2 linked regions of the Homo sapiens genome follow. The protein of the gene in region 1 purifies or fractionates together with the protein of each later gene. This does not show direct contact. Each region holds a gene or a part of one and is shown on either strand. Other genes may lie near its edges.

Evidence for each region. The genes of interacting proteins can lie anywhere in the genome.
Region 2: the proteins of SCYL3 (region 1) and COPB2 purify together in Homo sapiens (affinity purification with mass spectrometry; 2 studies listed by BioGRID and IntAct, with this or other methods). This does not show direct contact.

What each region holds. Positions count from the first base shown.
Region 1 is NC_000001.11:169,882,772-169,892,102, forward strand, and holds part of SCYL3 (protein-associating with the carboxyl-terminal domain of ezrin), read right to left. Parts: intron 6,120-9,331; 5' UTR 6,070-6,119; coding exon 5,905-6,069; exon of another isoform or gene 5,879-5,904; intron 1-5,878. UniProt on the Homo sapiens protein: May play a role in regulating cell adhesion/migration complexes in migrating cells.
Region 2 is NC_000003.12:139,358,648-139,365,647, forward strand, and holds part of COPB2 (coatomer subunit beta'), read right to left. Parts: intron 3,871-7,000; coding exon 3,760-3,870; intron 2,649-3,759; coding exon 2,434-2,648; intron 716-2,433; coding exon 623-715; intron 532-622; coding exon 351-531; intron 166-350; coding exon 97-165; intron 1-96. UniProt on the Homo sapiens protein: The coatomer is a cytosolic protein complex that binds to dilysine motifs and reversibly associates with Golgi non-clathrin-coated vesicles, which further mediate biosynthetic protein transport from the ER, via the Golgi up to the trans Golgi network.

The DNA.
Region 1 (9,331 bases):
CTCTGTATCTAGCTAATCTGGTGGGGAGGTGGAGAACCTTTGTGTCTAGCTCAGGGATTGTAAACGCACAAATCAGCGCCCTGTCAAAACAGACCACTGGGCTCTACCAGTCAGCAGGATGTGGGTCGGGCCGGATAAGAGAATAAAAGCAGGCTGCCCAGCCAGCAGTGGCAACCCTCTCAGGTCCGCTTCCACATTGTGGAAGCTTTGTCCTTTCGCTCTTTGCAATAAATCTTGTTGCTGCTCACTCTTTGGGTCCACACTGCCTTTATGAGCTGTAACACTCACCGCGAAGGTCCACGGCTTCACTCCTGAGCCAGCGAGACCACGAACCCCACCAGAAGGAAGAAACTCCGAACATGAGAAGGAACAAACTCCAGACACGCCACCTTTAAGAACTGTAACACTCACCGCGAGGGTCCGCGGCTTCATTCTTGAAGTCAGTGAGACCAAGAACCCACCAATTCCGGACACAATACTGCTGCTGATCTGACAGGAGACAGAACTCAGATGGTAATGCTCGCGTGCCCACTGCCCACAGCCTCCTGCTGTGCCATCCTGTTCCTAGAGGCCACGAACCAGTACCAGTCTGCAGCCTAGGGGTTGGGGACACCTGACTTAACATAATGTCCTCTAGGTCCTAACATGATATTAAAGCTCTAGGGTCTACCCTATACAATCACTGAGGAAGCCCTGTCCAATCAGATTGGGAGGAGAGTGATGAAATATTTCATTTGGAAGATAACCCTCAATATATTACCAGGTGGCATTTTCATAAATAAGCAGTGAATACTGAACACCTTCTTGGAGGACTATGGGCTAGCATAAGAATCCATACCCTGCATTGGTATAATTTTTGTATCAGATGCCTCAAACTTTATTAAACTACTTCCAGGCAGGGTCATAGGAAAATCTTCTCAGTGGGTTGGTTTCTCCAATTACATTTTTTTTTTTTTTTTTTTTTTGAGACAGAGTCTCGCTATGTCACCCAGGCTGCATTGCAGTGGCACAATCTTGGCTCACTGCAACCTCCGCCTCCCAGGTTCAACCAATTCTCCTGCCTCAGCCTCCCAAGTAGCTGGGACTACAGGCGCCCGCTACCACACCCAGCTAATTGTTTTTGTATTTTTAGTAGAGATGGGGTTTCACTATGTTGGCCAGGCTGGTCTTGAACTCCTGACCTTGTGATCCACCCACCTCGGCTTCCCAAAGTGCTGGGATTACAGGTGTGAGCCACTGTGCCCAGCCTCCAATTTCTTTTATTTTCTTATAATAATCTCAAATTTTGCCAACTCTGGGAATAGCTCCAATAGGGTTTATTTATTTATTCTTAGGAAGAAAGTTGTTACCCTCGAGTTAATTCAATAAAAAATAATTAAGAAAATATTGAAGAAAAAATTTCTTTAACTAGCAATTACAAACTAATAAATACAGCAAAGATCCAGATAAACCAAAAATTGTGTTAGCAGGTTGGTTAAATGAGTGCAGTTAACTGGGAATAATTTTTTACAAGTGTTTTTTTATTTCGTTTTGTTTTGTTTTTGAGACAGAGTGTCGCTCTTGTTACCCAGGCTGGAGTGCAATGGCGTGTTCTCAGCTCACTGCAACCTTCGCCTCCCAGGTTCAAATGATTCGTCTGCCTCAACCTCTCGAATAGCTGGGATTACAGGCGCCCACCACCATGCCTGGCTAATTTTTGTGTTTTTAGTAGAGATGGGGTTTCACCATGTTGGCCAGGCTGGTCTCAAACTCCTGACCTCAGGTGATCCACCTACCTCGGCCTCCCAAAGTGCTGGACTTATAGGCATGAGCCACCTTGCCTGGCCTACAGGTGTGTTTTGAGCTACGGTTTCTGTATAAAATTATGTAGCCTCCCTCATATTTTCATTTAAGAATCATTTCAAATAATTTTCAAACCAAATCTTTCATGTTCTCTTCTGCTTATTGTTTTACTCTACAATGCCTAGAAATTTTCTTGATGCAAAGTGAGTACTTGTTTGTTTAATAAAGAAGGAGAAGAAGAAATGACTCATTACATGTTTCTGAACAAGGCACTTAACTTAGCAAGAACCTTATTTCTCACTCTCCTTTGGTACATTTAATATTAAGCATAAATTATGCACACAGATTCACAGGAAAGGCTAGCAGTTCAGAATCAAATAGGACATTTTTTGATTCAAGCCTCTGCTGCTCTAAAGAATAGCAACAAGACATACTTGCTAAGGGTAACTAGGATATTTTTCAATGAACATCAGTTGAGCAAATAAATGGCTCTTGCCCTAGTAGAGAAAGATGACTATTTTTGAATGAGTGTCTTGAAAGCACTTTCCCCAAAGTTATTGAATACCTATTACATCCCATTTACTGTCCTAGGTGATGGTCTCTGAAAGAGGGTTCTGAGTAAGGACCTTTATTGTTAAATATGAATAGTATTATATAATTTATCAATGATGATATTTTTCTACACCCAAACAGGGATCTTAAGTATGAGATTCTTTCCCTAAATATAAATGATTCCCCTTTATCAGGAATCAGTTATGATTCAGCTATCCAGAGAATTCATTCAAGCCTCAGAGGCTTAACTTTTTATTGTTGTTCTGCCTCTGATTCGCTATTTCACTTTGAGAACTATGCAAAGTTAACTGACTCAGCATTACAGCCCAAATCCACCTGCAGGCTTTTAGATGAGACAAAGCCATAATTTCACGCTGTTAAATATGTTAAGTAAACAAAATAACCAAGATGCCTAAACTAGAGAACAAAGATCTTCAGGGAAAAATATTATTCCTTTTTCTCTGAAGATGTAAATCTAAGACAAAATGCAGATGCTTTTTTTTTTGTAAATGTCCACTATCTGAAGGTTAGATCATAAACTAACAATAAAATGCAGAAAGAGAAAGGAATAAAAATTCCATTCTGTAGAGCTTGCATTTGAGGTACTGATAAAACTTTTAGGTGGAAATGTTCAATAGGTAAGTGAAAATATAGATCTGGAGCTCAGACTAGAGATTTTGGCAGATAATTAGTTTAGAATGGCAGGTTGGATGGTTATTAACATCCAAGGAAAAAGGAGAGCGTGAAGTCTGCAAGGTGTGGTGGGGAGCAAGTAGCTGGCCATTCCATCTGGTGGGTCCATCATACCTGAGGCATGGGGGATACTTCTGAAGTTCTTCTGAGTGGATAGTGCCCAGAAGCCACGTAAGAGCACTGGATTCTGATTATGAAGGGCAAAAAATAATTTCTTAAAAAGTCAACCATGGGCCAGGTACGGTGGCTCATGCCTGTAATCCCAGCACTTTGAGAGGCTGAGGAAGGCGGATCACGAGGTCGAGAGGTAGAGGCTATCCTGGCCAACATGGTGAAACCCCACCTCTACTAAAAATTCAAAAATGAGCTGGGTGTGTCGGCGCGTGCCTGTAATCCCAGCTACGTGGGATGCTGAGGCAGGAGAATCACTTCAACCCGGGAGGCAGAGGTTGCAGTGAGCCAAGATCGAACCACTGCACTCTAGCCTGGGAAACAGAGTGAGACTACATCTCAAAAAAAAAAGTCAGTATGAGAGAGGAGAACAGCTTTCTCCAATTAGAATGCAAGCTCTTTTGGGCATAGCCATCATCTCTTCCATTTCTTGTTATGCCCACACAATGTGCATTCTTAAATAACATTGACTAACCCTTCCACAACAGCCCAAATTCATTATGGGGAAGAGCATAATGACTCCAACAATACTAAATAGAGCACTTATATAGCATCTACATACCACTCTTAGAGTCCAATGTGATTCCTGGCATAAAGACACTCAAGAATCATTTTTATAAGCTTTAATAAGCTTACCACAAAGCCCTAACTAAACACTTAGATTACAGCAAACTACAGCAACCAAATTCGGGCTTAGAATTTATCACTGTTTATAGGCTTACATATATGAGTCATCATCATCAGTTAGCAAATTATACTGTTAATTATAGCTGATGAATTCAATGTAAAATGAGATGGTCAGATAGAACTAAGTATTTCTCACATTATTTTGTGGCCAGAGCTTATACCTGCATTTCATCTTGGTGTATACTAGGATTGTTGTTTTTTACTTGTAACAGTGAAGAAAGTGTATATTGTTATCCAGTAACAGAAAACACTATATATCTGCTTGAAATAATCGTTAAAACTACCAAAGGTGTGACCAACAACCCAAACTCTAGAGAAAGTGAGGCAAGCTAAATATATTGTTTTAGTATTTCAGATACCTAGGACATCAAATTCCTAAAATCTAGCACATCGAATGCCATACATTTCTCAAGTGCTATGACCTAGTTTTTTAAGATTATGAGAAACATTCTGAGAATCTAAAGTTATCACTTTGTTGCAATTTCAAATTTCCCAAATTCATATATGAGGTTTTCAAAGCCACAGAATGGCTTAACAAGAGACAAAGATGAACTATGTGCAAAGACTCAGACATGGCTTAAAAGGGTATCTATGAATATTAAGGGGGAATAAGTCTTCCCTCTCAAGCTTCGCAATTCCTTCAGCACAGAAGTCCTCAAAAATGGAGAGTGGTCTTGCTGTTTTTTCCTTTAAAAACTCGATCTAGGTTATTCAATTTTCTTGGTACGTGCACCATAAAGTGTAACACAATTTTAAAAAAATCTTATAAAGAAAAAAATACTAAGAAAGATAAGTCTCTAGTACCTCGCCGATAATAGTTTATTAAAAAAAATGCACAATCTTATTAGATGAAAATAACAGGAGGCATGTTAGACATTAACTGTAAGAACAAGAAAGCGAAGTAAGGCATTTTGTCTTTTGTAAAATCACAATAAAAAATTCTTAACAATACCTAGATGATGTAAAAAAAGAGTCAAAAATGTGGTTCTACCAAAAAGCAAAATTACCTAGCAAGAAAACAGCCAGCTATATACTTTTTACCACCACGCATCTCGAGAGAACTGTTACCCATCTTTTTCTTTAGGAACCATCTTATAACAATTTCATGCTTGATCAAAAATACAACATCAAATAAATTACTGTTGTGAAGACCAAAATTCCATTACTAATATAATCCTTTATAATCATTTTAAAAAAATAAAAACAATTTAGAGTCCTATGAAACAGACATCAATGTTCCATACCTGTTGATAACTAAGGGACTCAAGGTAATAGAGATTATAATTCTAACAAAATCAAGATATCAAGTTCAACTTGAAAATAGCATGCCTACCAGAATAAACACTGGAGAATTAATTTACTAATACAATTACATTTTCCATTTTAGAAGATGATATATCTGAATTCCTAAATTTCCAAAGTGCTAGCTATCCAAAGAAGCATCAACTAATGCCTTCATTTTCCCTAATTCAAAAAGACACTTGGGGTTATTTTATTGACTTACATTCCACAGTAAAATCATTTTTTCTGATAAGAGGCCAGGATCTCCTGAGTGTGTCAGACAGCATGCTAATGCACTGGCACCCTCTGCCTGGAGCAACAATTATAAGGCATGAACTACAAGGATCTTTTCCCTAAGGAGGAAGCTGAAGCCTCCAGAATGATGTCAATACTTAACTGCATTTTGCTAGACGAGATTAACTCCTTATATAGCTCCTTATATCTTATATTAGCTACATAAAAATGTCTCCCTAACTTTCTCACCAGAAAAATAAAATATGATGATAAAAGCCATTGTACTGAGTTTTATGATGTTTTTTGGCTACAGGTATGGTACCTGACCATGTCATGCAAATGGAAGATAGGCCCATGAAGTAAGAGCAATGTTTTGAAAGGACATAAATAAAATACTGGTCCTTATGATCTTACCTCCTTTGAACTTTACTAATTTCATATTTTTTTAAAAGAAAACAAGATAGTAAAAAGTACTAACTATTAAGTCGTCACCTATTATGGTACCTTGGCAGCTTTATTAACCTTGTCTTCATTTTCTCTCTTATACACAAAAACTGAAGCAAATTTGCCATCTTGCAGTACAGCGGGATAAACAGCAAGTCCAGAGGGTAAGGTAAATGGTGGTTCTCTCAGTGTATAGCTCTTTAAAGCACTGTTCTCTGATCCCATCCCTTATGCAGTGAGGCAGTACTGCCACTCTTCCTCAAAGCCAAGCAGATCTAAAAGAAAACAGAAAACAATTTCAAACATTAAATCCCTATCTGCAACATCAACAAGAGATATCCAGACATAGCCACCCCAAACTACTAGTTTCTTTGATCCTCATAACTAGGACATTTGACAGTAAAAATGGTAAACGCTCTGCAAGTTACCAGCAATGGTTGTTAATTAACAACTAACAGCTCTAGAGAAAATGCACATTACTAAATAGTCACAGGTAGTTACTGTCCCTCCCCAAACTCCACCACATACAAACTTTCAGAGTGGAAAGGCAATCAAAAATAGAATAAGGTAATTCATACTTCCTAACTCACTTGTATATCCTCACTCACAAAGGAAAATGTTGTAAAAATATTACTCAAAAACAATAAAACTTCTGTATGTAGAAAATAACTTAAAATTATAAAGGAAAACAATACAAATTGGAGAATACTTATAATGAGGAAAATCATGGTTTTAATATTAATATGTTGAAAAACATTGTTAATATGATGAAAAACATATTAACAAATGAAGAGCTCATATAAACCAAGTAAAACACTAAAACACCAGTACAATAATGGGAAAGAAAACAGACAACTCATTGAAGAAACACAAATGACGATAAACATAAGAAAAAGTACGATCGCACTACTCTTCAAAGCTATCCTAAGTAAAAAGGGGAAACCGCAAAACTGAATCTCAAATAATCTCAATTGCTAAAAAAAAACAAAAGCCCACACATACACAGAATTCAAATGCAACTATGACAAAATACTTCAGTGCTCACCTAGTGAAGGGGCACAGTTAGAGGGATCAAGGGAGAGGAAAGGATTATCATGATGTATGAGGAACTTTTGGGAGGATGGATATATTCATTATCTTGATGATGATGATGGTAACGGGTGATTATGTCAAAACATAAAACTGTACACTTTTTTCATTTATTCTGTATCAATTACGCCTCAAAGTTGTTTTGAAAAGAAATATATGTATACATACACACAGACTTGAAAAATATATGTTGAAGTATTAACAGAGGTTTCCAGTGGAAGGTCAGATTATAGGTAATTTTATACACACACACTTGCCTGCACCTTCCAAATCTTCTACAATATGAACAGCTTTCTTGACAACAGGGATACAAACTCACAGGGTGACAACAGGTAATGTGCAGTGCCCCAGCAGTACTGGCAGCCTGGCAGAGGGACCTACTGTGCGTGCATGGGACCTACTGTGAGAGGCTTGCATTCTGAAGACAGTGGCTATCACAGAGTTCCAACCAGGACTGCAGTTTCAGAACTGTCAGATCATGCCACTTATCGTGAGGAACCAAGAGCCTGAATAGTTTTGTGGAAATCTCCATATTTTTCAATGTTGAATCAAATGTTTTCTAAACCTATATAGGCCAAACAACGTATGTCTGAAAAATCTGTGGCAGTCAGTTTTCAGTGGTGGCTTTACCATAATATAAAAATTAGAAAATAGAGTTCTTACTAACTCTGGCAATGTAGAAAGCAAACTGCTACAAATACGGCCAATAATTCTATGTAGGCCTTTAAAAATTTGTTTAAAATCTGTATTCTTTGGACAAATATAAACTCAATAATCATTACACATTGACCCTCTACTTGGAATTTTTCCCCACTTCGGTGAAATTCCATACAACACCTTCTACACTGGGTATGTAATGCTGCTCAAAACACATGCCTAGAACAAAATTTAAAGTGCCTACCGATCCACAACCATCGTTATATAAGAAACACATGTATAAAGGCTAAAGCTATCTAAAATTGAAGATTTTCAAAATCTAAAAATGTTGCTGAGAATAAGAACTAAATCTGCTTTGTAACAAATTCACTGAATTCCTACCTACCTGGCAATGTATCTTTCTTAAAAATGACAGAGAAGCAAAAAACAGTACTAAAAGAAATGCCAAGTATGGCAACTATGGTAACATTCACCTTTCTACTGGGACTACAAATAAAAAGTTTATGTGGGACCATGGGTAAAAGCAACAATGCTAATCCCTCTGTTCTGGAGATAGAGTGCTGGCCAGATTGTCACAACCTCCTGCTGAGTAGGGAGGATTATGCTTAGCACTTGATCTTGCCACCTCTTCTTGGGCACAGTTAATGTTGGCAGGTACCTATCCTGGGCCAAAGGGCGGTTAATTCACAAATTAGCCATCAATTTCATGGCCTGAGTGAAGAGATAAACTGGCCAGATCATTGTCTCCCCCAGGAATTTGAACTAAGAACAATTTTTGCCTATTAGAAGCATAGCCGAAGGTAGAAGGATGCTATGAGGTGGAGGTGGAGCTACGGCAAACCAAAGCCACATGAAGTCAGAAACTTTCCAGAGGAAGTCAGTTGGTAGTAAAATTTTAAAAAGCAAACACTGGGACCGTAGCTTAGTCATACTTAGGGGGCACATTACTACTATCCATCTCAAGACTACCGGAAGCCCAGCCTCAAATCTAATTCCACCCAGATACCCTAACATCCCATTGACACCCTTACAACCAGCCCCCTTTTCCTCAGGTAACTTGAATGGGTCTATGTTCTTTGAAACTAATTGCCATTTCATAGGCAGAAAGCTCTACTTGGTCTCCAACTCCTGCCTGAAAAGCCAGTCAGACTGGAAGAGTGAGTTACAGAAGTGTTACTTTGAAAGTATCTGAAGCTAGTCTGACCGTCTCTCTCTCACCCACAAAACACAGCTTTCCAAAATCAACACACAATTAAGAGAAAAGCAGAGAATAAGGGACTGTATATTAATGAATATCTTCTTCGCAGGAAATCATGCTGTTTATTTAAGTGTTAATATTAATCCTCATGGGAGATAAGACTGCCACCAGGATTCAGGGTCAGTGCTCTGGCTGATGAATGGCAGTCACCAGAGGCAAGAGAAAGGAACATTTAATTTACTTAGCTATTTCTAAATAGCAAAATACTTCCTTGTGGGAACATTGGCCTTGCAATAGCTATTAACCTTAGATTTCATATGAATTCCACTATAATTAACAAAGTTATAAAAGCATTAGGAAGTAGTTAAAATTCATTTTTCTTACTGTATTTTAGGTCTAAGACTAAAAAAATCACTTAAAAATTAAAAAGGGATGACTCAATTTCTTGAGAGAACTGGAAAGGATGCCATTTTCTTGTTTTGAAAGCATGTTAACTTTGACAGAAGTCCACTGATACCATCAGTGTAATACTGACAGTGGTAA
Region 2 (7,000 bases), on another chromosome or scaffold:
TCCAGCCAGGGCAATGGAGCGAAACTCTGTCTCAAAAGAAAAAAAAAAAAAGTGAACCATCTCAGCCAAATTTATCACATGAAGTGCTCTACTGACCTGTTGAGCTGTAGATCTTGAGGGCTGAAAGTCTTTTCCCTCTTCCATGACATTTCTCTCTTCATTTGGCTATCAGAGAATAAAGCAATGATGAAATGAGATATTCTGAAATCATAATTTACCTATGAACTTGGCCTAAATCCCAGATATCAGCTCTTAATTTTAAAAGAAGACAGCAGTTCAAAATCTGAAGTCCTGAATGTACTTCCACCCTGTAGTTACAATAAATGAAGCTTGACATCCTGGCCACTCACCGTGACAAGTGGGTATTGTTTGGCTGGCCACAGATCAGCATGTGTTTCCTTCACCCATTCTTCAACAACAAAGGCTTCTTTTAATCCAGGGAACAGGTTTTCATACTCTGTTGGGTCAGCAAGGGATTCTGCTGCTTTCTGATTGACTTTTGAGAGATTCTCTCTCCAGAGTTTCACTACCCTATTATAGACATCATGGAACCAAAGAGAGACTAAGTAAATGTGCTCTCTTTTTATTGGAAACATTTCTTCCTAAAATTAAAAGTCTGTACCTTGAAACCTGACTGGGTAAGTAAGTTCGGGCCAAGAAGGCAGCTTCTGGCAGCCGTCCAGTTCTAATTAAGAGCTCTAGGCAGGCATCAACCCTAAACATTAAAAAGGAGAGGTACTGTTACCAAGAATAAACACTATAATAATGGGTACTTAACACAAAGTAAATTTAGTGTTACAAAGCCAAAAATCTCCCCAATCTTCACACATATATCTCATTTCTGTCACTTGTCTTTTAATGGTTGTTAATCAACACACTGCAAGGGTATGAGGGATAAGACAGCTTTCCTGACTACTTTGAATCTACTTAACTTAATTATTATAATTCCTAAGAACCTAAAGGGGCTTTTCAAGAGGAGTTAAGGCAGGTTAGATTAGCAAATTTTAAAGGCATAAGGATATATGCCAGCAGAAATTCAGTTCCACAAGACAAATATCTAGGGCAGTGTCTCCAACATGGGAAGGGCCAGACAAGCCAGTGGTGCCCAGCAGAATACCATGGTGTCTTATTTTTTCTTCTATTTTAATTTCATTTTTTTTCTGTGCAAGTTTTATGATGTGGACAATATGTTTCAGAATTCAGGATTTTTTGGATTTTCGAAAGGTGATACAGTATGTATACTATGTATTACCTTACATCCTCAGCATGAAAAAGCCACAAACATTAATACTGCAATAACTTACATAGGAATGTTAAATGCAATAAAAATGTACCAAGTTGGTATAAAAGCAACTAAAAATACTAAAGCAGTTCAGCTCAGGTCTTGCCATCAAAACAGTTATAACTGTTTTCAGAATATTTTTGGATTTTTGAATTATGGATAAGGAATAGGGTCTATTCTTACAGGTATATAAATTCATAAATACATTCACATACATACAATGGGGTGCACGTTCAAAGTTATATGGCGAAGTATGGGATTGTAAAAAAAAAAAAAAATCAGTATGTAGGAGAAGGTTAAAGAATACTTTCGGGCTGGGCGTGGTGGCTCACACCTATAATCCCAGCACTTTGGGAGGACGAGGCAGGCGGATCATTTGAGGTCAGGAGTTTGAGACCAGCCTGGCCAACATGGTGAGACCCCATCTCTATTAAAAACACAAGCCGGGTGTGGTGGCGCATGCCTGTAATCCCAGCTACTTGGGAGGCTAAGGCAGGAGAAGGGCTTGAACGAGGGAGACAGAGGCTGCAATTAGCCGAGATCATGCCACTGCACTCCAGCCTGGGCAACAGAGTGAGATTCCATCTCAAAAAAAAAAAAAAAAAAAGGAAAGAATACTTTTGTGTTTTATTTCATAATACTGCCAACTAATGTCCAAATGATTTGGTTTATGCTAACTCGGTTAGACTTAAAAATATGAGACATCTTTATGCTTTATAGTGGGCTCAAATCTACAAGTAAGTGGCATACTTATCCCCTTTTGTTCTTGCCATAAATGGATCAAAGTTATCCAATTTGGGTAAAATCACCTGCCCTTCAGGTACCTACTAGAGCAGCTCAATAGCCTCCTGCAATCATAAAATAAAATGCTTCCACCATTAACTGGCAGGGCTGTTGAAGAAGGTGTTTAACATTTCTCCCACTTGAGCCTCCCTGAACAGCTCATTTAGCTCAAACATTTAGATAGATGTGCTAAGGGCATCCCTTGCTGAAGGTGAGTGCCACCAAGGCAGCACTGTCCTGTTCTGACTGCCCCGTCTATTCAACACCATTTGGCCATTCATCAGTTCTCTCCAGGGTTCATTCTTCACTTCCCTCTCCAAAAACCATCCTCAGTGTAGAATTAATTAATCTTTTAAATTAATACTCACTTGCCCTGTAAAAAGTAGCTCATGAATGCCACATTATTTTTGCCATCTCTCTCCGCACCCTCTGCTAGCTTGTTCACCATATTAGCATTTCCAGAGGCAGTGGCCAAAAGCAGCAGGCCCCCATAATCCTGTGCATGATGCAGGCACTCCTGGGCTAGGCCAAACTGACATTTACTAATGGCAAGTTCAGCAAGTTGTTTCCACTTCTGTTCTGACTGTAAGAAAAGAGTTTCCAAGTTAAAATATCTTTAGAAATAAGCATTTACATTTCCAACATTATTCTGTTAACTGTGCAGACAATGTTTATAAAAAGAGCTGTGTTTGTTAAGTTGGCTCTATCAAAATAAGAATGGCATTGCAAAATGTACAGTGAGGAAATGGAAATTATTAATGTATACAAAATGAATTTAAACACAAATCAATTTTAATGATGTGCAAATAATTATCGTCAACCCATTATACTTTTATCTTATAATTACACAGGGAAAGTAAAACCATCTCACTGGAGTTTTAAGGCAATTAGACTGCAATTATTTTAACAAGTGATTTAATATCACTTTTTTGAAAGCATACAAAACTACGTCTTTAAATATTTCACAATAATATTATGTCTCACTTGTAGCTTTTCAGAACTCAAAATGCTGCATGTTTAGATGATCTTAACGTAGCTAAAATTTATTTTGCACATCTGAAATTAATTTACCAGTAAATGCCAGTCTGAAACAATTGGGAGCCTCAATATACAAAGATCTATAAAAATATCATTACAAAAATGGTATTAACATTTCTCCCACTTGAGCCTCCCTGAACAGCTCATTTAGCTCAAACATTTAGACCAGATGTGCTAAGAGCATCTGCTGCTGAAGGTGAGTGCCACCAAGGCAGCACTGTCCTTCTCTGACTGCCTGCTCTATTCAACACCAAAAGATGAGGGGGTTGGGCTGTCTTTCAAAACCAACATATTTTTAGTTAGTTTCAGACATTGGCAAATAACTGCTATGTCTGTACTCTTAGGCTTTCCAGACTAGTTTACATACTATTTTACATCTTTTCTTATCTTGCAAAATAGAGCTCACATAAGATATGAAAACAATTTTTCTTAAAACAAATTAGAGTGCTAAGAATATCTCCAATGTAATCAATTTAACTTATGCAAAGTTTAACATAATACATCTTTTAAAAAGATAAGAGAGAGACAATAACTTCAACAAAATGAGCCACTAATTTGCATTTGGGAAAACTTTAATAACAAAACATTACACCAAACACATAGAAGTACCTACTGACTTTTCCATCAGTTATGAAAAATCATGAATTAGTACATACCTCTGCTTCCACTGCTAACTGGTATGCAATTTTTAACTCTCCAAGCTGAAGAGCAAGCTCAAAACGATGCTCAGGATCTGTGGATACTGTAAGAGCTTGCTGCTTGAAGCCCTAAACAGATTTTTAAAAATTATATATATTTATGCATACAAAAATGTATGTATGTTTTATATATATATATATACACACACATATACAGTGTACACACATTCACAGAGCAAATCATTTCCCTCTCAAACTAGAAACCCCACTATTTAATAAGAAGATGGAATAATTAAGGAGTCATTAAAGGAAGTGGTAAGAACAAACCTGGCAGATAAAATATTCAGTGACAGAATTCTTACTGTTTATTAGGATAATGGAAGCTGGCTAATGTTAAACTCAAGTAACCAGTAAAACTGGAAATGTAAATATAAACAGATATGTCAAAAAGAAAGGAATTTTGCAAAGTTGACTAAACAAGAATCATTTCAAAAGAAGAAAACTAGGCACAGCAGTGTAAACTTAGCTGTTGGTAATCTACTCAACTAGGCTGGGAAGTAGAGATCATCTAGTCCAACCCCTCATTTTGCAGATGAGACTATTAGCAGTAAATGGCCAAAGAAACGGGAGTCAAATATAAAACCTTCCAACTTTCTGTCATCTGTAGGTCATAGCAAACATTGTGTATTCAGGTCCAGTCACCAATTAGGTGTCATTACCTATTCCTTTATTGTTGGTCTCAAGTCCAGTTCCTCAGCAAGTATCCAAAAGACAGGAAGTCTAAAATTTCCTTCCCATGCTCCATTAAGGCATTAAGAACAAGCTTTTAAACCAGGGGTCTCCCAAACAACCAGTCTGTGGCCTGTTAGGAATCAGGCCGCACAGCAGAGGGTGAGCAGTGGGTGGGTGGGTGAGTGAGCATTACCGCCTAAACTCCGCCTGTAACGGCATTAGATTCTCATAGGAGCATGAACCCTATTGTGAACTGTACATGTGATGGATCTAGGTTCTGTGCTCTTTATGAGACTCTTAATGCCTGACGATCTGAGGTGGAACAGTTTCATCCTGAAATGTACCCCCTTCCCATCTGTGGAAAAATTGTCTATCTGCCACGAAACTGGTCCCTGGTGCCAAAAAGGTTGGGGACCACTGTTTTAAATCAACTATTGTAATTATTAAATTAGCTTCTCCTTCAAGACAAACACTACTGATGGGGTCATTTTTAGCTCTAGGGATGTAATGTGTTACACAAAAAGCTCAGGGATAGTTTACCTCTTCACCAGACTGAGGGAGAATGCTCATTTATGGGATAGTCAAGATTGAGAAGCTGGACAGCTTTAGGGTTCTGTCTGGCTATATCTTCAGGATGGCTTTATCATCAAGTTTGAAATGTTTTAACTTCTCAGCTTATACAGGCTGCCAACCCGCCCCGATCCATCCATGAATACGATGTAAATAAGGCATTCTAAATAACCGGAGTTACTTTTTTTCCACTAGCATTGATATAGATAACATAAAACCCAAGAGTGGAGGATGGAAGATCTCTGGAACTAGTCAGATACAGCCAAGGGCAAAACACATGAAATGAGGCGGACTAAAATATATACTTTTGTTTTCTGCTAATTCCCTACTACTAATAAAATCACACTAAAAGGATTTTTTTTTAAAGGCATAAGCTCCCAACGACACACAGAAAGGGAGAGGAAACAGTAACAAAAGTTTGGAAGCTGGAAAGCTGGTGGAGGAATATAAACATTTTGTTAAAACAGTAGAGAAAACAGATCCTAAATCAGGAGTGAGAACAGCATAGAAACAATGTGATTTACACCCAGTGTGTCTCATGAATGGTAGGGCTAAAAACAAACAAACTGCCCTAAAAGCATTCAGAAACTCTAGATCCGCTCCCCTCTCCCACCTCCCCTCTCTCACCTCCCCTCTCCCACCTCATGACAAAGAAGACAGGTTTATTCTTTGGAGAGGACAAACTAAAGAGTCTCCAGACCAGGAGATTCCAAGCACACTTGGAGGAAAAAGTACAGAGTATCAAAGGAAGACAGGAGATTATGAAAATGGATACACAGACTCAATGAAATATTAAATACTGAGACTCCAAGGTATCTTCTACTGAGACCCCAAAATGATGGTGACTGGGGAGCTTTTCAGTAAAATCTACTGAGCCCAAGGGAAAAGACTTAAAAATACTAAAATGTCAACTCCATGAAGGCTACATGTCAGCAGGAACAGTGCCTAGCACATTGTTAAGTGCTTGTTAAATTCATTACATAAATGGAAAGTCATCAAAAATTCATTGGCTAAAGATACTGACATTGAGACTCCCTAATCAAATGGGCCAACCACACCAGATATTGTGAAATCCAAACCCAATATGCCCCACCCACAAATTCAGACCTTCTGATCTGTTTCTTGTACCTTCACTCTTAAATGAGGGCCCAAGGACATCAGATACTTGAGGAAAATCACTAACAGCAAAGATGCAGATCAAAATGAAGCAATAAAAGGAACGTGAAGGAAGCATACCATATAGGGGGAAGAGAAAACTTCAAAATCTAAAAACAGAAATATATCATTCATATCTGTAGAAAGATACGAGAAACTTTTATCTATAAACAATAAGATTTTAAAAGAGAATAGGAAAATCAGTGCAGGACATACAACATGAACAATTCCAGAAAGACAGAATACAGAAAACGAAGGATATCACCATAGAACGATTCATGAAAATCCTTCAGAAATGTAGGACATAAGTTTCCCATTAAAAAAGCTCATCTAATAACTGGCAGAATTAATGAAAACTGATTCCTACCAAGGCCTACCATGATTATAACATTTCAGTACAACAGAGATGACATTCAGAAAGTTTCCACAGAGAAAAACCAGGTCATGTACTAAGAATGAGGAATAAAAATGGCTTTAGACTTCAACAATAACTACAAGGCAATGGAACAATGCCTTCAAAATTCTGAGAGAAAATTACCTCCAACAATTATATACCAGTTAAATGGTTGAATATGTTTTAGGGTAGAACAATGGCACTTTCAGATATTCAAAGTCACAAAACAATTTATCTCTCATTAACAATCCTTTTCTCAGGAAATTGCTGAAGGGCATGTTCCCCTAAAATGAGGGAGCAAAGCAGGAAAGGAGATAGGGGTATAAGAAACAATGGATCCAACAGGACAGAAGCAAAGGAAGCCCCAACATGATGGTGAGGGGAAATCCATGATGAGAGCAGGAAAAC